Linked DNA regions of Homo sapiens. The protein of the gene in region 3 interacts with the protein of the main gene of each other region in a pairwise test. Each region holds a gene or a part of one and is shown on either strand. Other genes may lie near its edges. The genes, in order: KLHL20, CTNNA1, ECT2 and CDH1.

Region 1 (7,032 bases), on a different chromosome or scaffold from region 3:
ATAAAATGCATTTCATATTTAAGGGAATGAGCATAACAAAGTGAACTTATATCATCACTTTTCTAGCTGAAATTAACGGGGATGGTCTAAGAAATTTTCAGAATTACCTTTAAGTACTTATAAAATACCTAAAATACTTTTATTATGTTTAAAAAGTCATTCCAGATAATATATAAGATACAAATTTGTATCTTTTCTTTGCGACAGGGTCTTGCTCTGTCACCCAGGCTGGAATACAGCGGTTTGATCACGGCTTACTACAGCCTCGACCTCCTAGGCTCAACTGATCCTCCCACCTCAGCCCCCTAAGTAGCTGGGACTACAGGTGTGAGTCACCATGCCTGGCTTGAAAATTTGTATCTTATATTCATATTTCATATGTAGAAATTCAGGTGCTAAATTACTAGGTAAAAGTCACAAATTACTGACAAATAATTAGAAATAAGATATTTGGATTTTTGTATGATCACATTATATAAACATGCAGAGAAAAGACAATCTATGCCTCTTAATTAAAATAATTATTCTTTTAACAAATATTTACTAATTGCTTTTAATGTACACAAAGCATTTTGCTATAGACTGTGGAAAATTCTAAGTAATATAAAGAAGCAATCTCTAGAGGAGGAGATACATGAATAACTAGTAAGAGGGCAACCAGGACAAAAGATGTGGTTCAAACATAAGAATTTTCGGAGGAGGCTGAGCCTAGTGGCTCATGCCTGTAATCCCAGTACTTTGGGAGGTTGAGGCGGGGGGATCCCTTAAGCCCAGGAGTTTGCCATGCCTAGGCAACATAGTGAGGCCCCATCTCTAAAAAAAAAAAAAAAAATCCCCAAAACATATATATCATGTATGTGTATGTGTATATATATATAAAAGAATTTTTGGAGGTGATACATATGTTTAGAACCTTGATTGCGGTGATATCATGGGTATATACATATGCCCAAACTCATCAAAATGTATACATAAAATATGTACCTCAATTATACCTCAATAAAGCTTAAAAGTCATTCAGAAAGGCAAAATCTATGAAGTATATGTTTAACATCATTCAGAAAGATTCTGGATCTCACAGGTATAGCCTATCAGGTTACTACAAAGGTTGTTGTTGTAAAGTAGGAATATTACACTGGGTTTTCCCAGAGCTTAAGTGAAATATCTCACATCCATGCTCCAGATCGTTATATTTCTGTTTCTGATTCTAAACTCATTAAGCAGTCCTCTGATGGAAAATTCTTCCAAAAGTACCATGCTACTTAAAAGGGGGATGACTCAAGCATTCTGATCACTGAGTTTTAGGTCAGCCTCATGTGAGTCTCTCTCAGATGCTAATTATCTACAACTACTGAGAGAGTCTAATATCTAGCCTGCAAAGGACAGCATCCCTATCAGTCTGCTACTTCCAAAGCTGTAGCACTGACGGGAACTACAGTATAATAAAACACTAAAGTGTAAAAGGAGTCTCCTGAGAAGGACAGAAAAATCTATAAGGACATTCTAGGGAGAAGAAATTGCATGTGCATTGCAAAGATATAGCACAAAAATAAAAAACATGGTTCTTCTTTTCTCCAACAACAACCAATTTTTCCAAAACACTTATACATCTGGTAAAAACATCACTGTTTACGCTTGGCAATTTTAAAGACTAAAACATAAAGCTGAGCAGTTAAAGAATAATTTTTACCATCCATATAAACAATCAAGAATGCTTTTAACCACAGAGCTAAAATGGTGCCTTGTACACAGTAGATGCTGAAAGAATAAATCACATGATTAACAGTGGTACAATCAAGCTTCTTTTTTAAAAAAGTAACAATTAAAGACAGAAGACCAAAAATTCCTGGAATACTGACACTGCATGCTGAAAGTAAAGTGTTATTGTCACAACCTTAGTTACATACATAAAGATGCTACTGTTGAACTGAGATATAAACAATTTTTTATTTCACCTAAGTACAATGTGGGTAAACTAAGCTAATGTCTCCGTTTTTCTTTTAAACATACCATAGTGCCAGGCGCGGTGGCTCACACCTGTAATCCCAGCACTTTGGGAGGCAGAGGTGGCTGGATCACCTGAGGTCAGAAGTTTGAGACCAGCCTGGCCAACATGGTGAGGCTCCATCTCTACTAAAAATACAAAAATTAGCTGGATGTGGTGGCGCATGCCTGTAATCCCAGCTACTTGGGAGGCTGAGGCAGGAGAATTGCTTGAACCTGGGAGGCAGAGGTTGCGGTGAACCAAGATTGTGCCACTGCACTACTCCAGCCTGGGAAACAAAAGCGAAACTCTATGTCAAAAAAAAAAAAAAAATTACCATAGCAAAAAAAAATAATGCTCTTATTACTGCATCAGTATAGTAGAATCTTTTTTTCTTTTTTTTAGAAATAAGGTATTGCTCTGTCACTGAGGATGAAGTGCAGTGGTATGATCACAGCTCACTGCAGCCTCAAACTCCTGGTTGAAGCGATCCTCTCACCTCAGCCTCCTGAGGAGGCTCTCAGGTGCATGCTACCACGCCTGGCTTAATTTTAATTTTTTGGTAGAGACAAAGACTCTCTCTGTTTCCCAGGCTGGTCTAGAACTCCTGGCCTCAAGTGATCCTCCTGCCTCAGCCTCCCAAAGTGCTGGGATCACAAGTGTAGGCCACTGTGCCCCCAGCCATTGGTGTCCATCCATATAATTTTCACTTCAGGAAATATCATTCATCTTTTGCCTTTTTTCCTCAACCATTTAAGAATGTAAAAGCTAGCTGGGCATGGTGGCTCACAGCTGTAATCCCAGCACTTTGGCAGGTTGAGGCAGGAGGATCGTTTGAGCTCAGGAGTTTGAGACCAGCTTGGGCAACAAAATGAGATTCCATCTCTACGAAAAAATTTAAAAATTATCCAGGTGTGGTGACATGTGTGACAAGTGCTTCTTGAAAAGCTTGCAGAACCACAAGCCAAGATAAACTTCTTTTCTTTATAAATTACCAAGTCTCAGGTACTTCTTTATTGCAATGCAAAATGGACTAATACGCTATCTAAATGAACATTTCACCTTTCCTACTTCAAAAATTTTGTTTTACTTTGAAAATTAACAACTTGACCTTAAAAAAGATTCAGTTGCACTGACCCTCATTTATAGTCCTAAATATACTTGAATAGAGACAGCTGGAGATTTGAGTGTATAAACCCTCAAAACAGAAATAACATCTCAAAGTGTCACTTCTACTTAGTAGAAGGGGTCCCAATAGGCACTATATTCCACACCTGATTCCACACCAGAAGGCCAAGCTATTAACCTCTTTATTTGAAACTTGGTTGTGAATGTTTTAGTCCCAAGACATCTCATCACGGCTTATTGGATAAAATGAGCATAAGCCTTGGGTGCCTTGGTCCAGTGATCGAGACCAAGATGGAGCAGGAAGGGTAAATCCTCATGCAAGCATGCTAGTTTCCCTTTATATCAGGATAGCAAAAGCCTTCCTAGAATACCCCTCAACAACTACTGCTGACATCTCATTGGTAGCACTGTGTCACACAGCCCTTCCCATATGCAGAGACAACTAAGAACTCAGAGTATTTAATTTTCTAGTGTCTATAGTAGACGGAAGAAAAGAAGAGATGTGCAAGCTAACCTACAGTGCATGCCACACTAGGGAATAGTCAAATCAAGCAAGTATGTTTTACACTATTTTTAAGCATACACTTTAGACTGAGTAGAACAAATTGAAAATTTCAAAGATACGAGATTGGAAATTTTGTCTTCTGAAATTGAACTGAAGGAGTAGCTCAGCTATCCTTCAATGTGAGTAAAAAACTATCAATAAAAACTCTAGATACTGTTAAATAAAATAAGACCCAAAGCATGTAAAGCTTCTTACTCATTTTAGAGACTTTATGGGGCCTTCCTGCTAGGCCCCATCGTAAACACCCCTGGTACTCACTACAGTTCTGTCCTCAGCATTCTCCTTTTCTGTTCTACCATCACTTATGCCTACAGCTTGAAGAACCTTCTTAGTATTGATGACTCACATTTTTTTTTTTAAATTTCTAGCCCAAATCTCTCTTCTGCCCCAGAGTCATATTCCAATCACATGCTGGATATCTCCACCTGGCTGTTTCCTAAACACAATAATCTTAAAGTATATGAAACAGAATCTATTCTTGGCTTACTGAAACCTGTTCCTCTTCCTGTATTTTTCTTTTTAATCTTATCATGGCGGCATCTGGTTTCCTAAGTTTGGAGTCATTTATAACACTATCTCTTCCTCACTCCATGTTCACCAAATCCTTTTGATTTTACTATTATACAAGCTCTCAATTCCATCTACTTCTCTCAACCCTCACTGCCATAGATATACTTCAGGTTCTCATCATCTTTCATCTAAACTACCACAACTACTTTAAATTCATTTCCTTGCCATAATTTCTTCCCTCTTTCCAATCCATCCCCTATGTGCCTAGAAATCAGTTCAAAGAACAAACGATGTATATAATAATGTCCATTGGCTCTTAAATACCTAAAGGATAAAGTTTGAATTCTTTCCCACTGTTGTAGCCTCAATTTCCATGTTTTCTACTTCCCCTTCTTCCTCAAAATACCCTATACTCCACATATACTCACTGTTCCATGCATGTCAGACAATTCTGGGTCTTGGTACTCTCTCTTATCTTTTTTTTTTTTGCACAAGCTGTTCCTTCCTTTTATGGTGTCCTTAATTAACTCCCTTCTTTAGAAGTAAATTCTTATTCTTCCTAGAAGATCTAGCTCAAATGTTACCATCTCTGTGATGCTTCCTCATCTCCACAGAGCAGTTCCCTCCTCTTAAGTTTACATCTCTATTAAAATTCTGTTAACATTGTTTGTTAATTAATTAATTAATTATATTTTAGAGATGAAGTCTCGCCCTGTCATCCGGGCTGGAGTGCAGTGGCACAGTCACAGCTCACTGCAGCCTTGAACACCTAGGCTCAAGTGATCTTCCTTCCTCCTCCATCTCCCAAAGTGCTGGGATTACAGGTATGAGTCACTGTACCACGCCAATACTGTATCATTATATCTGTTCTCATCACTTGATCTGTATCACACAATATACAGGAATAGAGTGGTACTATATAAAGGTTTGATATATGAATAAACCAATTTCTACAATCAAGCTCAGTTTTCTATTTATATATTTAAGGAAAGTTGGAAGAATTAATTACAAAATATTTGGTATCTCTTAATAAAATGAATGATTGAAAATTAATATCTTGGGAAACAAACATATTGTTGGTAAAGACTATGCATTTGTGTAACTCTAAGGGCAAAAATTTGTCAATGTCCACCAAAATTAAAAAAATGTACATAATCTTTAGGCAATTCTAAATCTAAGAATTTATTCTTTTTTTTTTTTGAGACGGATTCTTATGCTTTCATCAGGCTGGAGTGCAGTGGCACGATTTTGGCTCACTGCAACCTCCACCTGCTGGGTTCAAGTGATTCTCCTGCCTCAGCCTCCTGACTGGCACTGTAGCTGGGACTACAGGCACGCACCACCATGCCCAGCTAATTTTTGTATTTTTAGTAGAGAAGGGGTTTCACCATCTTGGCCAGGATGGTCTCGATCTCTTGACCTTGTGATCTGCCCGCCTCAGCCTCCCAAAGTGCTGGGATTACAGGTGTGAGCCACTGCGCCCAGCCAGAACTTATTCTATACTTACACATCTGGGCAAAAACCACCTACAAGGATATTCATTGCAGACAGAACTGGTTGTAACAGCAAAACAGTTGAAATAAATCTCTCTCAAATGGGACTGGTTAACTAAGGTGCATATAGACAATGGAATACTACATAACTATTAAAAGGAATAAGGTAAGTCTATATGCATTTGTTACAATTTACAAAATAATTTTTCTTTTTTTTTTTGAGACGGAGTCCCGCTGTTTAGCCCAGGCCGGATTGCAGTGGCGCAATCTCGGCTCACTGCAAGCTCCGCCTCCCAGGTTCACGCCATTCTCCTGCCTCAGCCTCCCGAGTAGCTGGGACTACAGGTGCCCGCCACCGCACCCGGCTAATTTTTTGTATTTTTTAGTAGAGACGGGGTTTCACCGTGTTAGCCAAGATGGTCTCGATCTCCTGACCTTGTGATCCGCCTGCCTCGGCCTCCCAAAGTGCTGGGATTACAGGCGTGAGCCACCGCACCCAGCCACAAAATAATTTTTCAAGTGAATAAAGATACAGAAGAATGTGCATGATATACTGACAGTGTCCTTTCAAATGCATTTTCTTATTTTTATTTATTTATTTAAAGAGATGGGGTCTCTCTCTGTTACACGGGCAGGAGTGCAGTGGCATGATCACCACAGCCTCGAACTCCTGGGCTCAAGCAATCCTCCTGCTTCAGCCTCCTAAGTAGCTGGGTAGCTGGGAATACAAGTGTGAACCACTATGCCCTACAACATTTGTGTCTTTTTTTTTTTTTTTTGAGACACTGTCTTGCTCTGTTGCCCAGGTTGGGGTTCAATGGTATGATCACGGCTTAACTGCAATCTCTGCCTCCCAGACTCAAGTGATCCTCTCACCTCAGCCTCCTGAGTAGCTAGAACTTCAGGCATCTGCCACAACACTTGGCTAAATTTTTCTTGTTTCCTTTTTGTAGAGATGGGGTTTTGTCATGTTGCCCAGGCTGGTCTTGAACTCTTGGGCTCAAGGGATCAGCCCACCTCAGCCTCCCAAAGTGCTGGGATTACAGGTGTGAGCCACTGTGCCTAGCCATCTTTTCTTTTTAAAAGCTACTAATGTTAGCCAGGTGTGGTGGCTCACGCCTGTAATCCCAACACTTTGGGAGGCCTAGGCAGGGGGACTGCTTGAGCCCAGGAGTTTGAGACCAACCTGGGCAACATGGCAAAACCCTGTATCTACAAAATAGAAATTAAAAAAGTGAAAAGAGAAGACATCTTATATACATTTGTGTATGAACTACAATGCCTCTAAAAGAATGCATAAGAAACTGCTTACAGTGGTTGCCTTTGGGAACTGGGGTCAGCAATGGGAGAGT
Region 2 (4,142 bases), on a different chromosome or scaffold from region 3:
GTGGAGGGAGCAAGGTGACAGCTGACTGTAAGTGAGGAAGGGGAGAAAATGTCAACAAGCTTCTCTTTAGGGAACCTTGCTTAGGGTGGGGATGCCAGCTGGGAAGGATCATGGGGTTAAGGATGGTTTTCATCTCGAAGGCCACTATCAATCAATCATCATAGCTTGGTATGTATGTGTGACGGGAAGGATGCAGAAGGGATATGCTGACAGAAGGACGCAGGAGAGGGGTCAGCTATAATGAAGACAGGGATGCCTCCGAGGTTGACATGAACCTCAAGGAATGGACATGTGAATTCCCAAGGTGGGGGTGCAGGGTGGGGCACTCAATAGGACAACGGGCATGGCCCTCCCTGATGGGTTGGCACGAGCCGTGCAGCCTAGAGCCACAGACAGTTTCCCTCCCGGGCATCCCCATCCTGGAAGAGACGGACACCGGGAGGGCCCAGAGCACCACAGATACTGCGGGCAAATCTATGACTTGAAGGCAGAGAAGACGACTTTGGGCTCTTGGATGTCGTGGTTTCATAGTGGACTTTATTGGGAAAAGTTAGTTAGTGTAAAAAACATTCAAATTAATTCATAAAATTTAAATAAGGTGATAGTAAATTATACCTTGTAGTTAATAGTAATCAATCAATCAATCACTACAGTAATCACAAATAAGGTAAAGTCTAAATTACTGCCTTAGCAAACACTATGTTGTCAGGTTTTTCTGCTGCAAGCCCAAGGCGGGAAACACTGCAGTTATTAGAAGTGAGCCCAATGATGAATTTGCATTTGAAGCTGGGAGAAAGAGGAAAAAAAGTGTGTTCTGATTATGGCATCGAGACACTGTAGCCTAAAAAAGCAACTTTATTAATGTCCTGCAGCAGCGTACATTAGTAATTATAACAATGCATTAAAATTTTCATTTCATGTCATAGAGAATCAGTTTTCTTCATGATACATTATGTTTTACTGAGTGAGTTTGTCCCTCCAGAGACCTTTCTGGGAACATGCCTTCTCCAGGGACTGCTTCCTAAGATGCCCAGGTTGCTTACCACAGGTCATCTTTGGTCATTTAAAAGCAGTCAAGCTGTCTGGACTGCACCCTCTCAACTGAAGTTGAGCCAAATTCCCTTCTCTCAAACCCTAACGCCGCCATCACTAAGAGAATGGGCATCTCGGCTTGGTCAGAGCATTACTAACAAGCTAATGTGGGATTCTCTTTGGTTATGAATTTTTATTTTTATTTAAGCATACAAAAAATACAGCTAGAAGTAGGCTCCTGCATTCTAAAAGCATTTTTAATCAACTTAAACTATGTTCTTGGAAAATTCACCACCTGGACTGGTTCAGTCTGCCCATTTCCCTGTGGAATCTAGTATCAGTGTTGTATTTAGCAAATTCATTTGAGTGACGAACAGTGACTGATATTCAGGAGCCCCGAGGGGTGGGGGCGGCCGGCCTGGGCAGACTTAGATGCTGTCCATAGCTTTGAACTCGCTGAGGGCCTGCACCGGGTTCACGTGCTTCTTCTGAGATGCCCGTTTAATCTTGGTCTGTGTCTCATCCTGTTTCTCTCTCTTCACCAATGGCTTTTTCTCTGGTGCCTTCATCTTCCATGACACAGCAGGAAGGTTGAGGGAAGCCATACCCTGTGACTTTTGGTATTTGGTAGAGGCGACGTAGGATGCCTTCACTGTCTGCACCACAGCATTCATCAAGTTCTTGGCTGCCTGGATCAGGGACATGGCGCTGTCCACCTACGAGGCAGACAGGGGTGGTAAGAAGCACCGGCCTGACCTCCAGCCTCGTGGACACAGGTGGGCTGTGCTTGAAGGGGAGCCCCCTACTCCTCTGCAAGACCAGGGCCTGGGCAGGTCGCAGAGGATTGGGCAGCAGCCTGTTCCTGAAGAACACCCTCAACGGCTGCTCTTATCTAAATAGCCTGGAAGCGCCTGCCCTCAGACCCTTTGGAGAAGACATGAGGCAACCTCGCCTTGCTCACCCCCACCCCTCAGCAAGTGTTTATTCACTCAAACCAACTGGAAGTCACTGTAAGTGATCCCAGAGCTGTAAGCACGTGGGGGAGGAGAAGCAGGAATCGAGACAGGGATGTTTATGGCAAAGCAGATGAGCAAATGGTCTCAATATGTTCAATATAAGAAGTGTTTCTTTTAAAGGAAATTCAGTGGGATTAAGAGAAGCCATGGAGGCTCGGTGGACCCCAATCCACTCAGCAAACCTCTTCTTTCCCCTGCCCTAGGTGAGAAAGGCCTCAGAACTGTGATGTGGTAAAAAGAAAGAGACGCTACCCAAGCACTCTGAGGAGTGAAGGGCTTTTGAGAAAACACCCTATCTATGTCTACTCTTAATTCCTCTCTGGGGGAAGAAAAGGAAGTTTTGTTTTGTTTTGTTGTTTCGTTTTGTTTTGAGACAGTCTTGTTCTGTTGCCCAGACGGGAGTGCAGTGGTGCCATCTCGGCTCACTGCAACCTCCATCTCCCAGGCTCAAGTAATTATTGTGTCTCAGCCTCCCAAGTAGCTGGGACTTACAGGTACCTGCCACCACGCCCGGTCCCAAGGAAGATTTTTAAAAATTCCTACCCAGTGAGTGGCCAGCAAAGGGGAGGAGGCCAGCCTTTCAGCCCTTGCAGTGCCCCGCAGGTGTCACAGTTCTACAGGGAACAGATGATGGACAGACCTTGGTCTCCAGAGACTGGGACAGGACTTGGAGTTTCTGCACAGCACACTTTCCCAGGGCAGGTGTTTATGCGGATAGGAGGTGACTTTCATTTCTGACAAGGGTCAGCACGTTCCCACTGGCCCTCTTTTTGTTCAGCTAATGCTTACCCCAGAGACAACAAGCTCCCCGCCGAGATTCTGCACCTCGGCCTTGACCTTGCTGCAGATGTTCAGCTGGTGGCAGTAGAGGGCGATGCGTTGCAGGTAGGCCAGCAGGTCCTGCTTGCAAGCCGAGTCGGGGCACTGAAGAGAGAGCAGGCTTAACACCAAGTATCCTGGCCTGGCCCAAGCACCCCCGACCCCACGGCTGTTTCTGAAAGGTTCAGTGTGGCACTCACATGCTTCCTCTCCTCTTGCTGGAGCAAAATCACCCAATTACCTGAGGCAGTCACAGCCCTTGCCTACACTCTGCTTGGGGATGGAGGCGGGTGAGCTGATGGAAGTCGTCCATGGGACCCTGACTGCGCCGCATGGCACTGGTTGTATAGCCAAGGCCTTCTGAGCCTCCCACTGACTTCCCTCCTATGACGGCGGGGAAACCACCCTGGCCAAGGATCCCCTCACCCCAAACGGCAGGGTGGAGGCCCATGCCCCTCGAGGTGAGAACAAGCCGGCTCAGCAAGCAGGAGCCTGGCTATGGAGAAAAGTCCAGATGTTTTTAGCTAAGTAAACAAATAGTTAACTCTTCTGCTCTGAGGCACTTTGCGTTATTAATGCCTGATGACAAAAGCCACTCACTGCAGGCTGAGGTGGAAGACAAGTGAGTAAAGTAAAGCAAGAAAAAAAGCAGTTGGGGATGGTCAAAGAGAAAAGGGTGGCCCCTGCCCAGTTCCTGTCTCGCTCCACATCTCAGAGTTTTAGAGGCTCCCAGATTAGGACCAGCCTAGAAAGCTTTACCCAAAGGGAGAAACACAGAGCACCTCTCAAGTGTTTATAGCAAGCAAACATTTTCTTCCAGTGAGGCTGGAGCAAAGTACACCACAGAGAGTGGTATGAACTGAGACCCCGCAGACCATACTGGAGATGAGCTGTATTCTAAGTAGTCATGGAAGCAGGGCAGAGCCATGTGATCTGCATTTTCAGATGACAGTATTGACAGCTGGATGCAGAAGGAAGTGGAGAGAGGAAAGAACAGGAAATCGGGAGCGGCCACAGTAGTCCAAGTGGCTATGGAGATCTGCAGAAAGGACAAGACTGGTTTGTGTCAAGATACATTTGGCCAATGGAAGCAATAGGCCCTATTACCGATTGTGTGGGAGTCAAGGATGCCTTTACAATCTTTGGCTTGTGTAAGGAGGCTTGTGTCTCACACATCCTGTGGCCTAGATGAGGCTGAGAGTTTGGCTATTTCAGGGAAAATGGTGGGGAGGCTTGTTAACTACAGAGAAAAACTGTAACTGAGAAAGAGCTTCT
Region 3 (7,972 bases):
GAAAATTAGGTTACAGTCATCTTGGGAAGTCCATCTTATACTGGACTTTATTCTGTGAGCAGTGAAGAAACCATGTCTTTTGGTTTAGTTTTGTTTTTAAGGAGGGGGATACATAGTCATATTTAGTTTTCTAAATGAAGATAATTCTGTGACTGATGACTGGAAGTAGAGAGAGTGATTAGTTCCCAAAAGACCAACTAGAAGGCTGTCCTTGTCATAGTTTGGATGAGAGATAATGAAGGCCTAAACTCGGGCAGTGGACTGAAGGGGGAAGATTCAGATTCTAGAAATATTTTTCAGGTCAAATTGGGAGAATGGTGTTGGGGTTGGTGGTGCAGGGAGACCAAGAGGAGGAAGGGAACAGGAAGATGACTTTGAGAGATCCAACTTGGGAGTCAGAGTGAATGGGGATTCTACTAATCAGGAGAGAAATACAAGAGGCAGAGGAGATAAAGGATGGAGAGCTGGGGAAAAGAAGAATTCACTTTAGCACATGAAGAGTTTGATAGGATTGTGGGTCACAGGAGCAGAAAAAATTGGTAAACAACTGGCATTATAGAGTGGGTTTCAACAAGGTCTGGCAAGAAAGAGAGACGTGGAAGCATATGCATATAACTTAAATCCCTGGGAATGAATGAGTTCACCTAGGGAAAGGGGGTTGCCTGAGAATAATACTTTGGGGAACAATAATATCTAAGCAAAGGAAACCGAGAAGGAAACATCAGAGAGGCAGGAAGAGAAGTAAGACAGTGAAAGTGGTGGTCTTTCAGCAGCTGAATTAATGACCATGGGTTAGAAAGGGGTGCTATCATTAGGGGGAACTGAAGGCTAAATATCCTTGATTCATGTGTGAAAGGGATTAAGAGATGGGAAGAAAATTTCGTAATCAGAATGGAATGTTTGAAGTTAACATTTGAGAGCTAAAGCAATTGAGTGTAAAACATTTAGGATATTGTCCATCAAAATAAGTGTTGAATTGAGGTTTTGGGATTCAAAAATTCAAGGAACTGTGAATCTAATTGGCTGGTTCATCAAAGGAAGAAAGACAGAGAACTAGTCTTCTGAATTTGGAAACTGTTCTATTTATTTAATGATACTGCTATTTATCAGAAATTTATATGGATGTAGTAATTTTTACATATTTTGATTCCACTCTCATCCTCTATATTTAATCAAAGTCCCAGTAATTTTTCCTATTCCTTATCTCTCCAACCCATCTTTTCTATCTTAGTTCAGACTATCATTTCCTATGAGTTTGAATTCAACCATATTCTCACTGGTCTTTCTTCTATTTCATTCTTCTATTTCAAGTGAAGTTGTGTTGTGTTCCCAGATTGCTACTTTTTTTTTTTTTTTTTTTTGAGACGGAGTCTCGCTCTGTTGCCCAGGCTGGAGTGCAGTCGCGTGATCTCGGCTCACTGCAAGCTCCGCCTCCTGGGTTGAAGTGATTCTCCTGCCTCAGCCTCTGGAGTAGCTGGGCCTACAGGTGCGCACCACCACGCCCGGCTAACTTTTGTAGTTTTCTTAGAGACGGGGTTTCACCATATTGGCCAGGGTGGTCTCGAACTCCTGACCTCAGGTGATCCGCCCGTCTTGGGCTCCCAAAGTGCTGGGATTACAGATGTCAGCCACTGTGTCTGGTCCTGATCGCTACTTTTAAAAAATAACACAGACCATATAATTTCCTTGCTTCAAGGTTTTTAATTGATCTTCAGTGCTTTCAGCATAAAGTTTAAACTCTGTCATGACAGTGGAGCTCTTCCCAAGCTCCTTCTAACATGGCATTTATTTTACTTTTTATTTTTTATTTTTTGAGATGAAGTCTCGCTCTGTCGCCCAAGCTGGAGTGCAGTGGCGCAATCTCTGCTCACTGCAAGCTCCGCCTCCCGGGTTCACGCCATTCTCCTGCCTCGGCCTCCCGAGTAGCTGGGACTACAGGCGCGTGCCACCACGCCCGGCTAATTTTTTTGTATTTTTAGTAGAGACAGGATTTCACCATGTTAGCCAGGATGGTCTCGATCTCCTGACCTCGTGATCCGCCCGCCTGGGCCTTCCAAAGGCATGTAATCTCATGCCTGGGATTACAGGCATGAGCCACTGCACCTGGCCAGCATTTATTTTTTTTTGAGATGGGGGCTGGATGGTGGGGGGGAGGGGCGGTCTTGCTCTATCGCCCAGGATGGAGTGCAGTCACTACCTAGGCTGGTCTTGAACTCCCGGCTTCAAGGGATCCTCCTGCCTTAGTCTCCCAAAGTGCTGGAATTATAGGCATGAGCCCCCACACCTAGCCTAACCTAGCGTATGTCAGTTGTCTTCCACTGTCCTCTTCATGTATATTATGATCCAGCCACACCAAACTGTTTACTGTCTCCTATATATATTGAGCTTTTATGAGAGCCTAAAGTGCACGTAAACAAGCTAATATTAAGAATTTATGTTTTTAAAAAAGTTCAAGGTTAATATGCCATTCAGTTCAATTGCCTATGCCGTATATAGTATTTAAAAATTTTTCATAATGCTGATCTTGAAACACTATAGCACTTGAAACAGCTTCTGACTCAGTAAGACTAAGTTACTTGTATCATTGTTTTGTAGGTATTTGAATTCTGTGAAAACCTATGCATGCAATAAATTTTTCACCGCAAATACAGCTATCTGCTAGAAGTGCCATGAGAACAAGGCCCATATTTGTCTTGTCACACCTATATTCTCAGTGCTAGCATAGTACCTAATGGGTGCTTAATAGTTATTAAATGAATAAACTATGATTAGGTTAATCAGGACATCCAGTCTCTCAAACATTATGAATGAACTTGGATCTAGCTCATTCACTCTCGAAATATTTATTTGGTACCTACATGTGAAGATTCCTGTGTTTATTAGAGAGCAATGTGTAACATTTGCCTTTGCAGTACTAGCTTTTTGAAAATACCTGAAGATGAGGGATCATGTTTTACTTTACCAGACACCAGCCCTCTGCTAGGTGCAATTAAGTGGCATATGATCACCTATGCACACGATTATCTGAAATACTCCTCTCCACATTGCTTTCTTTGAGCCTGCAGACAGATCTATACTAGACTTTATTTACACTCATCTATTATTTCTGGGTTCTAATGCGGGCTAAAATATTTATTAGGAGACACTGGGTAAGTTACTTAAACCTTTCCTACAGTTTCATGGTATCATGGGACTATGATACCTACTTGTGGGTTGTTTTAAGGATTAAATAAGGTATAAAGTGCATAGTAAAGTATCAGTATGTTCATTCTCTTTCTTCTCTCCCTTATACTGTAATTATCTGTTTATCTGCTAATTTCCCTCACCAGATTGTGTGGTCCAGACAGGCAGTTTTCTATGCCTTATTCATCTTTATAACCCCAACAAGCACAATGGCTGTCTTAAAATTAGTAAATATTTGCTGAGTAAATGAAGACCTAAGAGAGTGAAAAAGGTTGTATTACCCGTTTATTTGTTAATCTAACTGCCACACATCCCTTAAAAGAAATCAAGTACAGCTTTTGTTAGGGAAGCTTAAAATTCATGGCAATGATACCATACACAGTTAATCATTAGCTTTGGAAAGTCTGTTGAGCAGAAAGCGGTGCACAAAGGAAGTAGGGCTGCTTCCCACAATAGCTTAATATGTTTTCAGTGATGAACGTTTTTGGAATGCTGGGCACACCCGACTTCCAAATACGCAAGCACATTCCAAATGGAAATTTCAATTACTGTTTTTCTTTTTTTCTGCCGTAACAGTTATCACAGCATTTTAATGAAGGTCAGACTTAAATACTGACAAGCAGGGAAACCAATAATTACCAGATTGCTTCATTCATTTTGTGGACAGCATTATAAACTTTTCAGGCATTCTAAGATTGCCTGACAAAATTAGAAAAAATTGTTAAGTCCCCACAACCTGCTTGAGATGCTCACAAGTGTTCCATCCCAAAGTACACGTTTGCCTCTTCTTATTGGTATTTAGGTTCTGGCATCTGATTCCCCTTTCTTCTTCTATTTATATTAGCCTTCAGGTGGGAACTATGGAAAACCCACCTGGTGGGGGTGTATTTTTCTTAAGAGATTGTGTTATATGGTATCATATTTAGAAAATAAAGAAATTATTTTCATAATAGCAACGCTAATCACAGGAAAAACTTGATACATTCTTGACTAGACTTTAGGGGAAAGTACAAGTTCTTAGTGGGCGGAGGGGGGCAAAGACGAAGCAATTTGGCTCCAAAAATTCTAGAATCTCGTGGCATATTTTTATCAAATTCAAGCTTATCTTTAAAAAAATCCGAGAATTTTTCTAATTTCTAAGAATTGATTCTAACCCGCGATACTCCCTAGATGGGAGCGCAGTGCTTTAAATAATAGCATTTAAATAAGCGGCTGCTGATTTGAAGTCCACCTGGGGAGTCCGAGTTCTAGGACCGGTCCTTGGCCCTGCCACACGCCAATACAACCATCAAAGTCAAAATCCCTTAACTCAAATTTAAATACATTCCTAAAGCAGAAAGCATCCCGATAGGAAAATCCTACAGCTCACAGCAAGCAGCAGGGAAACATTTATCTCTGGCGGCACTGATTTAAGCTTAAAAGATTTGGTATCGTTTAAAAAAAAAAAAAAGCTGGGTGGGGCCGAGGAGAATCCACCCAAACTTTCCTCAGGAAGTAGGATGTTTACTGAGTAAATATGCGGTAGTCACAGAAACACCTGCTACTCCTTTAAGACCTCAGGAGCCACCACCGCCACCTCCTGGCCACATCCGGGCACTTCTCTGCAAACTCCTGGCGTCCCGACGCCCGAGTCGTTGGGCTTATTTGAAACACACGCACAACCAATCAAGCGGCGCCTGCCGGGACTTGGAGAGCGTCGACCAATCACCGCCCCTCTGGAGACTCCTGCCTATGGGAAAGAGGTTGACATCACGCGCCAATCGGCATGGCTCTTAGAGAGAGCAGCTTAGTTTTTGAATCGGTTGTGGCGGCCGCCGGCGAGGAATGGCGGTATTTGTGAGAGGAGTCGGCGTTTGAAGAGGTGGAACTCCTAGGGCTTTTTTGAGAGTGGTAAGGACTCTGTGTGAGTGAGAGAGGTGCAAGTGGGCGAGCGGCTCCAGAGCCAAGGGCTCTTTTGCCTGCGGTCGACGTCCCCGCCCCTAGTGACCGCGAATTCCGGAGCGCCCCAGCTCAGGCTTCCCGGATCCGGGAACTCCCTCGCCGCACCCCACCCCCAGCAGCCGGGCCCTGACGCGGAGTGGGAGACCGAAGCCCCCAGTATTGCTGGGCATCTTCGCCCTCACCTGTTGGCTCTTTTGGACAGAAGAGTGTGGGTGAAGGGAGGGAGTTGGGAAAGGGATTTTGGCAAGCCGCGCAGCCCTGTGGCTTTGGGGGCCGGCACTTGCAGCCTTTGGGGGCTTATCTCAGAGTGCGCCGTGGTTTTATTCTAGGATTCATCCTGGCTTCTTTGCGGGAAGTTTAATTTTTCGTTTTTGCAAGATAAATCCAGGCCATCCGCCCCTCGTCCTCCCCAGCCACCCGGCACAGATGTGTCCGGCTTAGTGGTTAAAGGCGCAGCCTCTGGATTTAGCCGGGCTTTGAATACCTCTTTTACCCCTTACTAACAGTTTGACTTAGGGGAAGTTGCTTAACCTCTCTGTTCCTACGTTTCTTCATCCATACATTGAAAATAATAATAGTACCTGCCTCTTAGGATTACTGCAGAGATTAAAAGGTTTAGGACAATGTCTGCCACGTATTAAGCGTTAAGTAAATGTCAGTTGTTAATAGTAATGTTATTGTTAATAACACCACCATTATATCTTGGATTGCATTTTAGTCCTTCACCTTGGAAGATGATTGCCTAAAAAGTATTTAAGTAAAAGGAAACTTGAATGTTTGTTTACATGGCAAATTTTATCTCTGGGATAAAAGGGGGCATGTGTTATAGTGTGTTTAGTTAGAAGCTCCTTGGGTCTGTTCTTGGGTGAGAAGCTGTGTAGGTTTATGAACACTGATCCTATTGTGCTTATTTTAAAGGCTTCTGGAATACAGTAATTTGAAAAAAAGTGATTAATATATTTCCATTTCTAATCTGACTGTTGGATGTTAGTTATGTCATCAAGTTACCGTAGTGCATCTCTTTTTCTCTATACATTTTGAAGCTGTTTTGGCAATAAATTGATCATATACAGTATCATCAGGGGCAATTTTAATTATTAATCATCTGCTTTCGATCATCTGCTATGCTCCCTCCCTTTTATTAATCATCTGCTTTTGATCATTTGCTGTGCTCCCTCTTAAAGAGGGAGGCATAGGAGAAAAATGTAAATATTTTCAAGAAGTTTTTTTTTTTTTTTTAGACGGAGTCTACCTCTTGTTACCTAGACTGGAGTGCAGTGGCACGATCTCGGCTCACTGCAACCTCTGCCTCCCGGGTTCAAGCGATTCTCCTGCCTCAGCCTCCTGAGTAGCTGGGATTACAGGTGCCTGCCACCAAGCCCAGCTAATTTTTGTATTTTTAGTAGAGACGGGGTTTCATTGTGTTGGCCAGGCTGGTCTCGAACTCCTGACCTCGTGATCCGCCCGCCTTGGCCTCCCAAAGTGCTAGGATTACAAGTGTGAGCCACCGCGTCCGGCCTTTCAAATGGTATTTTTGATTTTCCTCTTCCAGTCCTTAAAGCAGGTTAGCTCATCTCCTGACTTTTTTTTTTTTTTAAACATTCTTTTAAGGGGACTTTGAATGAAAGCCACTTTAATGCCTTTTCATTGGAAATGGTTGAGTGTAGAAGACTTAAAATAATAGGGCTGGATAGAATTTATCATTGATTCTAAATTAAGGCTGTTACAACTATTGGACCGCTCCTTTGGAGAGCCTTAGAATAATGATTGACATGGATGTATGGTAAAGCCATAAGAAATATCCATATTGTGAATATTACATGAGAATAGTTGTTTGTTGTTCACTTTAAGACATCTATTCAGTTTTCATCTTAACTAGATTTGAGTTGTAGTACTATGTGTGTTCCACCAATGTGGAAACTGAGGTTTAACTGACTATGTGCAGGGCTGAGACAGGAAGCTGAGTTGCCTGATTTTGAAGTGTCACATAACAGCATACAGTTTAAACTGTTACTTTGCTAAGACTCTGGAGGAAGGTATTTGTATATTTTATTAATCTGAAGAAGTAGGAAAGGGGAAAGTCTGACATGTAGCTCTCGTTAAAGGTGGGTCCTCTGTATATTTGCCTAATATTTAGAAATTTACTCTCAGTAAAGTTGACTTATTGAAAATTGATAAAAAAATCTCTAAAAAAATTTTTTTAGAGAGACAGGGTCTTGCTCTGTCACCTAGACTGACTGGAGTGCAGTGGTGGGATCACAGCTCACTACAACCTCAAACTCCTGGATTCAAGTGATTCGCCCACCTCAGCCTCTTGAGTAGCTACTATAGGCACCTGCCACCCACACCTGGCTAATTTTTAAATTTTTTGTAGAGATGGGGTCTTGCTATGTTGCCCAGTCTGGTGTTGAAGTCCTGCCCTCAAGTGATCCTCCTGCCTTGGCCTCCCAAAGTGCTGGGATTTCAGATGTGAGCCCCCAACCCACCCTGATGAAAACTTGTTAAACCTTTTATTCCCTGTCTAGCTTTTAAACTCTTCTTAAGTCCTGGAAAACTTAAAAAAGGATTTTCTTTCATAGTCCAGAGTTATATTGGCACTCACCCATGCATAATTGTTTTGTCAAACCTTTTAGGGGAGAGGTGTTTTTAAAGAATTATGAAAATACTGACAAGGGACCAGCCCAATTATACCGGAGAGGTTTAGAGACATCCACAGAGGATGAGTCAAGAGTGTTGGATTGGGGGTTGGAAGACAAGATAGGTGGAGAGTCGAGCACTAAATGCAAATAGATGTGATGTAAATTATGATTTGTGCCTGAAAAATAGCTGAGAAATTCATTGTTGCTGT
Region 4 (7,011 bases), on a different chromosome or scaffold from region 3:
TCAAAATAATATTTGTTGGGGAGATGGGGTTTCACCATGTTGCCCAGACTGGTCTCAAACTCCTGGGCTCAAGTAATCTTCTCACCTCCCAACTAGCCTCCCAAAGTGCTGCGATTACAGTTGTGAGCCACCAGGCCTGCTTAGGTATCCCTGTTTGATACAAGAGAAAACAGAGGGCAGGCACAGTGGCTCACACCTGTAATCCCAGCACTTTGGGAGGCTGAGGTAGGTGGATCACTTGAGGTCAGGAGTTTGAGACCAGCCTGGCCAACATGGCGAAATCCCGTCTCTACTAAAATACAAAAATTAGCCAGACATGGTGACGTGTGTCTGTAATCACAGCTACTCAGGAGGCTGAGGCACAAGAATCTCTTGAACCTGGGAGGCAGAGAGTGCAGTGAGCCGAGATCGCGCCATTGCACTCCAGCCGGGGCAACAGAGCAAGACCTTGTCACTAAATAAATAAATAGGAAACAGAGAAGCAATTCAGTGTGTTGCGAAAGTCACACAGCACCTGTCTTCCACAAGGAGCCCCTCTGTGTTCCCGCCTCACCCTGGACACCTGATCTACTGTCTTTGGAGCTTGGAGAAGGACTTGCCGAGAAGTCTGAAGAATGCATCAGGCCTGACCTGACTTTGCTGCCCCTAATTGTTTTCTAAAATCCTTTTTATTGAATTATCAGAGTGTAATGGAAGAGTCGATGAGAGTCGCTGCAGAGTTACGAGGCCAAGGCTTGCTGGGTAGAAGAAAGTAAAGCCCTAAAGGCTCCCAGGGCCCAGCGATGGTATAAAATATGTATTTTTACATAACTGAGAGGAAAAAAATAAGCAGACAGTACAGCCCCATGGGGGAAACGCCTCTTTCTGTATTTCCATTATCTTGTTCAAGGCACGATCCTAGTGGGAAAGGAAATACCGGAGCCTTCTCCCTCTGAGCCTCCTGGTGGGTTAAGAGCAGAGGGAGCCAAAATACGACATCCAAAAGACCTGATTGGAAACTCATTAAAATTGAGGGGACAGGTTGTTGGGGGGGGCGGTGCTGGGCTGCCCAGAAATCGTCTGCATTTGAGAAATTACTTGATGGACTCAGAGGCACCTTTAGCTCTGGGTGAAATATTCCAAACATGGCTTTCCCCAGGAGGAAGCGAAATAGGGGCTGGGCCTTTTGAAAGAGTAACCCCTACTCCAAATATTTATTGAGCAGTTGCTATGATGAGCCAAGAACTCTGCTTAGCGATTGTTTTTGTATTAGCTCATGCCAATTCACTTATACAAAGGAGAACACTGACTTCCCCAAGGTCACAGGGCTAGTGAGTGGCTGACTCCACTTAATGCTGTGTAGTTCTAACCATGCTTGAAGGATAAAGGGAAAGGAGGTGCCCTTGTCGGGGTAGACAAGCCACCCAGACGTGGCTGGCCACAGGGAGTCAGACAGGGAAGTTGTCTAACCTAACATTTGCCTGTCTATTCTGTTTTTGTCTTTTGATGGAGGACGGCGGGTGCTGGAGGGCCACTGGCCCAGGACCTGAGACCTTTGGCCCCTATCTATTCTATTTTTGATCCTAAAATTATTTCACTGGGGACAGAATTCTCTGGAGAAGGTGATGGTGGCCATGGTGTGGCTGTGGCATTAAAAGCCCCACTCTGGGGGTCAGAAGATCCTGGGTTTTGGTCTTTGGCTTTGACATTGACCTGCCTATGTGACATTGAACAAGTTATTTGCAAATCATAGGTTTGGGTGAACTCTAAAGGTCTCTTCCAGGTCAACATCAAAAAACAGACTGAAAACTGCAGCTCCAGCTGGAAGACTGGGACCACATGAGATGAAGCTGATTGTTAGAAGAAAGGCCCTGGAATCAGAGAGGTTGGTTCCAGTCCTGCGCCACCTCTCATTGGCCTCAATCTCTCTAAGCTTCAGTTGCCCATCTATCATATGGGAATAATAATACAGCTCTTGGGTTGTTTTGAAATGAGCTTAAATGAGCTGGTCAGTGGCTGGGCACGGTGGCTCATGCCTGTAATCCCAGCACTTTGGGAGGCTGAGGCAGGTGGATCATCTGAGGACAGGAGTTCAAGACCAGCCTGGCCAACATGATGAAACCCTGTCTCTACTAAAAATACAAAAATTAGCCAGTCGTGGTGGCGCATGCCTGTAATCCCAGCTACTCAGGAGGCTGATAGAGGAGAACCGCTTGAACCCAAGAGGCGAAGGTTGCAGTGAGCCAAGAACACACCATTGCACTCCAGCCTGGGCGACAGAGCAGGACTCCGTCTCAAAAAAAAAAGAGCTGGTCAGTGTCAAATGCTTAGCACAGAGACTGGCACAGTAATCTTCAATGTCCAGCACCTATTGTTACTATTTTTTTTTTTTTTTTTTTTTTGAGACAGAGTCTTGCTCTGTCGCCCAGGCTGGAGTACAGTGGCGCGATCTCGGCTCACTGCAAGCTCCACCTCCCAGGTTCATGCCATTCTCCTGCCTCAGCCTCCCGAGTAGCTGGGACTACAGGCGCCCACCACCACGCCTGGCTAATTTTTTGTATTTTTAGTAGAGACGGGGTTTCACTGCGTTAGCCAGGATGGTCTCAATCTCCTGACCTCGTGATCTGCCCGCCTCGGCCTCCCAAAGTGCTGGGATTACAGGCGTGAGCCACCATGCCTGGCCCTATTGTTACTATTTTTACCCCTCACTTCTGTACAGAGCATTTATGGCTCAAGAAACATTTGTCATTTTAATTGTATGGGAGTCCCACAACAGCATAGGGAGACATTTCTGATCATTATTCCCATTAGGAGGGTGGAGAAACTGAGGCTTTGGGAGGTGGTCCTGACCTAGGGAATCAATTTGCTGACTCACTAACCCATGAAGCTCTACAGTTAAAAAAGACTAGATTAAAAAATGAGAACTCAGTAAAGGGGCTGAGGCAGGAGGATCGCCTGAGTTCAGAAATTTGAGATCAGCCTCGGCAACATAGTGAGATCCCCTCTCTAGAAAAATTTTTTAAAAAATTAGGCCGCTCGAGGCAGAGTGCAGTGGCTCACGCCTGTAATCCAACACTTCAGGAGGCTGAAGAGGGTGGATCACCTGAGGTCAGGAGTTCCAGACCAGCCTGGCCAACATGGTGAAACCCCGTCTGTACTAAAAATACAAAATTAGCCGGTGTGGTGGCACACGCCTGTAGTCCCAGCTACTCAATAGGCTGAGACAGGAGAGTCTCTTGAACCCGGCAGGCGGAGGTTGCAGTGAGCCGAGATCGTGCCACTGCACTCCAGCCTGGGCAAGACAGAGCGAGACTCCGTCTCAAAAAATACAAACAAAACAAACAAACAAAAAATTAGGCTGCTAGCTCAGTGGCTCATGGCTCACACCTGAAATCCTAGCACTTTGGGAGGCCAAGGCAGGAGGATCGCTTCAGCCCAGGAGTTCGAGACCAGGCTGGGCAATACAGGGAGACACAGCGCCCCCACTGCCCCTGTCCGCCCCGACTTGTCTCTCTACAAAAAGGCAAAAGAAAAAAAAATTAGCCTGGCGTGGTGGTGTGCACCTGTACTCCCAGCTACTAGAGAGGCTGGGGCCAGAGGACCGCTTGAGCCCAGGAGTTCGAGGCTGCAGTGAGCTGTGATCGCACCACTGCACTCCAGCTTGGGTGAAAGAGTGAGACCCCATCTCCAAAACGAACAAACAAAAAATCCCAAAAAACAAAAGAACTCAGCCAAGTGTAAAAGCCCTTTCTGATCCCAGGTCTTAGTGAGCCACCGGCGGGGCTGGGATTCGAACCCAGTGGAATCAGAACCGTGCAGGTCCCATAACCCACCTAGACCCTAGCAACTCCAGGCTAGAGGGTCACCGCGTCTATGCGAGGCCGGGTGGGCGGGCCGTCAGCTCCGCCCTGGGGAGGGGTCCGCGCTGCTGATTGGCTGTGGCCGGCAGGTGAACCCTCAGCCAATCAGCGGTACGGGGGGCGGTGCCTCCGGGGCTCACCTGGCTGCAGCCACGCACCCCCTCTCAGTGGCGTCGGAACTGCAAAGCACCTGTGAGCTTGCGGAAGTCAGTTCAGACTCCAGCCCGCTCCAGCCCGGCCCGACCCGACCGCACCCGGCGCCTGCCCTCGCTCGGCGTCCCCGGCCAGCCATGGGCCCTTGGAGCCGCAGCCTCTCGGCGCTGCTGCTGCTGCTGCAGGTACCCCGGATCCCCTGACTTGCGAGGGACGCATTCGGGCCGCAAGCTCCGCGCCCCAGCCCTGCGCCCCTTCCTCTCCCGTCGTCACCGCTTCCCTTCTTCCAAGAAAGTTCGGGTCCTGAGGAGCGGAGCGGCCTGGAAGCCTCGCGCGCTCCGGACCCCCCAGTGATGGGAGTGGGGGGTGGGTGGTGAGGGGCGAGCGCGGCTTTCCTGCCCCCTCCAGCGCAGACCGAGGCGGGGGCGTCTGGCCGCGGAGTCCGCGGGGTGGGCTCGCGCGGGCGGTGGGGGCGTGAAGCGGGGTGTAGGGGGTGGGGTGTGGAGAAGGGGTGCCCTGGTGCAAGTCGAGGGGGAGCCAGGAGTCGTGGGGACGATCTTCGAGGGAAGGAGAGGGGCATCCGTAGAAATAAAGGCACCTGCCATGCCAAGAAAGGTCGTAAATAGGAGTGAGGGTCCCGGGGATAAGAAAGTGAGGTCGGAGGAGGTGGGAGCGCCCCTCGCTCTGAGGAGTGGTGCATTCCCGGTCTAAGGAAAGTGGGGTACTGGAGAATAAAGACATCTCCAATAAAATGAGAAAGGAGACTGAAAGGGAACGGTGGGCTAGGTCTTGAGGGGGTGACTCGGCGGCCCCCTCCCGGGAGTTCCTGGGGGCTCGGCGGCCGTAGGTTTCGGGGTGGGGGAGGGTGACGTCGCTGCCCGCCCGTCCCGGGGCTGCGGGCTGGGGTCCTCCCCCAATCCCGACGCCGGGAGCGAGGGAGGGGCGGCGCTGTTGGTTTCGGTGAGCAGGAGGGAACCCTCCGAGTCACCCGGTTCCATCTACCTTTCCCCCACCCCAGGTCTCCTCTTGGCTCTGCCAGGAGCCGGAGCCCTGCCACCCTGGCTTTGACGCCGAGAGCTACACGTTCACGGTGCCCCGGCGCCACCTGGAGAGAGGCCGCGTCCTGGGCAGAGGTGAGGGCGCGCTGCCGGTGTCCCTGGGCGGAGTAGGGAGGGGTTGGAAAGGGGCCGAGAAATTGCACTCCCACACCCCTGGGTTGCAATGGGCAAGCTCCCTCCTTGGCTCAAACGACACCCCTTGGAATTTACGCAGATTTGGGGATCCAAACGTTTACGACTGAACACTGTGGTGGAGGGGGTAACCCTGCCTGGTTGTTGACTATGTTATAAAGAAGAGGAGGTTGAGGGCACTTACTAGAAGCCTTCGTATTTCTCTTATTGCCCTCAGCACTGTAGAGACAGTCTCTCATTTCAGACTGCAAAAACCTGGTGGGTGGGAAGGCCTGGCAGGAGTATTCCCGTTTTACAGTTGAGCAAACCGAGGCTAAGAGAGTGACGTCCACTTGCTCAGGGTCAGCAGAGCAGATATCTGAACTGGGATCTGACTCCCAGGCCCCATTAAGCACCATCTCTGGGATGACTGAAGAGCAGCCCTCTCTTGGTTACTGGGCTGTGGCTTTTGTTTACAGATATAAAAGCTTTTTTTTTTTTTTTTTTTTTTTTTTTTAAAGACAGGGTCTTGCTCTGTTGCCCAAGCTGGAGTGCAGTGGCACAATCATAGCTTACTGCAGCCTCCATCCTCTGGGCTCAAGTGATCCTTCCCATCTCAGCCTCCCTAGTAGCTGGTTATCATGGGCATGTGCCACCACACCTGGATAATTTTAACTTTTTTTTAGGCTGGGCGCAGTGGCTAACGCCTGTAATCCCAGCACTTTGGGAGGCCGAGGTGGGCGGATCACAAGGTCAGGAGTTCGAGACCAGCCTGGCCAACATGGTGAAACCCCATCTCTACTAAATAAAAATATAAAAATTAGCCGGGCATGGTGGCGTGTGCCTGTAATCCTAGCTACTCAGGAGGCTGAGGCAGGAGAATTGCTTAAACCCAGGAGGCAGAGGTTGCAGTGAGCTGAGATAGTGCCACCGCACTCCAACCTGGGTGACAGAGCAAGACTCCGTCTCAAAAAATAAATAAAAAATAAATTTTTTTTTAGAGACAGGAGTCTCTCCATGTTGCCCATGCTGGTGTTGAACTCTTGGGCTCAAAGGATCCTTCTGTCTCAGCCTCTCAAAGTGCTGGGATTGCAGGCCTGAGAGACTGTGCCTGGACCAAAACATCTTGATACAGGTACTGTTTCCCCCAAGGAATAATGATTTTTTTTTTTTTTTTTTTTTTTGAGATGGAGTTTTACTCTTGTTGCCCAGGCTGGAGTGTAATGGCGTGATCTCGGCTCACTGCCACCTCTGGCTCCCAGGTTCAAGTGATTCTCCTGCCTCAGCCTCCTGAGTAGCTGGGATTACAGGTGCCACCACCATGCCCAGCTAATTTTTTGTAGTTTTAGCAGAGAAGGGGTTTCACCATGTTGGCCAGGCTGGTCTGGATCTCCTGACCTCAGGTGACCCACCTGCCTCAATCTCCCAAAGTGCTGGGATTACAGGCATGAGCCAGCACGCCTGGCCAGGAATAATGATCTTTTTTTAAAAAAAGCATGGTAGTTCTGACTCAGGATGAAAATGCATACACCCAATGTACTTCTAGGCCTTATCGTTGTGACAATCTAGAGTTTGCTTTGTTCCACTTGACTGTTGTCCAGGGAGCAAGGGAAGGGGCTAGTTTCTCTTCTGGTTTCACTGAATCCCAAGTGCTTCCTTTATATCAAACCACTTTCTCCTCTCTCATGATTTTACTTGATTGGGTATCACAATAAGAGGCATTTTTTTTTTAAGAGAAATCACCCACAATTCCCCTGAGGGAACACCTCCACTGTGTCATTCTTCCAGTCTTTGACCACATGAATCTTTAGCAATCACGCTGTTGTCTTTACATTTTTTTTTTGAACTTT

Evidence for each region.
Region 1: the proteins of ECT2 (region 3) and KLHL20 interact in a two-hybrid assay, tested with the Homo sapiens proteins (one study listed by BioGRID).
Region 2: the proteins of ECT2 (region 3) and CTNNA1 interact in binary tests that used the Homo sapiens proteins (3 or more experiments, as listed by UniProt).
Region 4: the proteins of ECT2 (region 3) and CDH1 interact in binary tests that used the Homo sapiens proteins (3 or more experiments, as listed by UniProt).

What each region holds. Positions count from the first base shown.
Region 1 is NC_000001.11:173,717,973-173,725,004, reverse strand, and holds part of KLHL20 (kelch-like protein 20), read right to left. Parts: intron 1-7,032. UniProt on the Homo sapiens protein: Substrate-specific adapter of a BCR (BTB-CUL3-RBX1) E3 ubiquitin-protein ligase complex involved in interferon response and anterograde Golgi to endosome transport.
Region 2 is NC_000005.10:138,931,408-138,935,549, reverse strand, and holds the end of CTNNA1 (catenin alpha-1), read right to left. Parts: intron 2,973-4,142; coding exon 2,838-2,972; intron 2,663-2,837; coding exon of another isoform or gene 2,592-2,662; intron 1,749-2,591; coding exon 1,461-1,748; 3' UTR 516-1,460; downstream 1-515. UniProt on the Homo sapiens protein: Associates with the cytoplasmic domain of a variety of cadherins. The association of catenins to cadherins produces a complex which is linked to the actin filament network, and which seems to be of primary importance for cadherins cell-adhesion properties.
Region 3 is NC_000003.12:172,745,785-172,753,756, forward strand, and holds the start of ECT2 (protein ECT2), read left to right. Parts: upstream 1-4,941; 5' UTR 4,942-5,073; intron 5,074-5,217; exon of another isoform or gene 5,218-5,332; intron 5,333-6,365; exon of another isoform or gene 6,366-6,688; intron 6,689-7,972. UniProt on the Homo sapiens protein: Guanine nucleotide exchange factor (GEF) that catalyzes the exchange of GDP for GTP. Promotes guanine nucleotide exchange on the Rho family members of small GTPases, like RHOA, RHOC, RAC1 and CDC42.
Region 4 is NC_000016.10:68,733,287-68,740,297, forward strand, and holds the start of CDH1 (cadherin-1 isoform 1 preproprotein), read left to right. Parts: upstream 1-4,005; 5' UTR 4,006-4,129; coding exon 4,130-4,177; intron 4,178-5,010; coding exon 5,011-5,125; intron 5,126-7,011.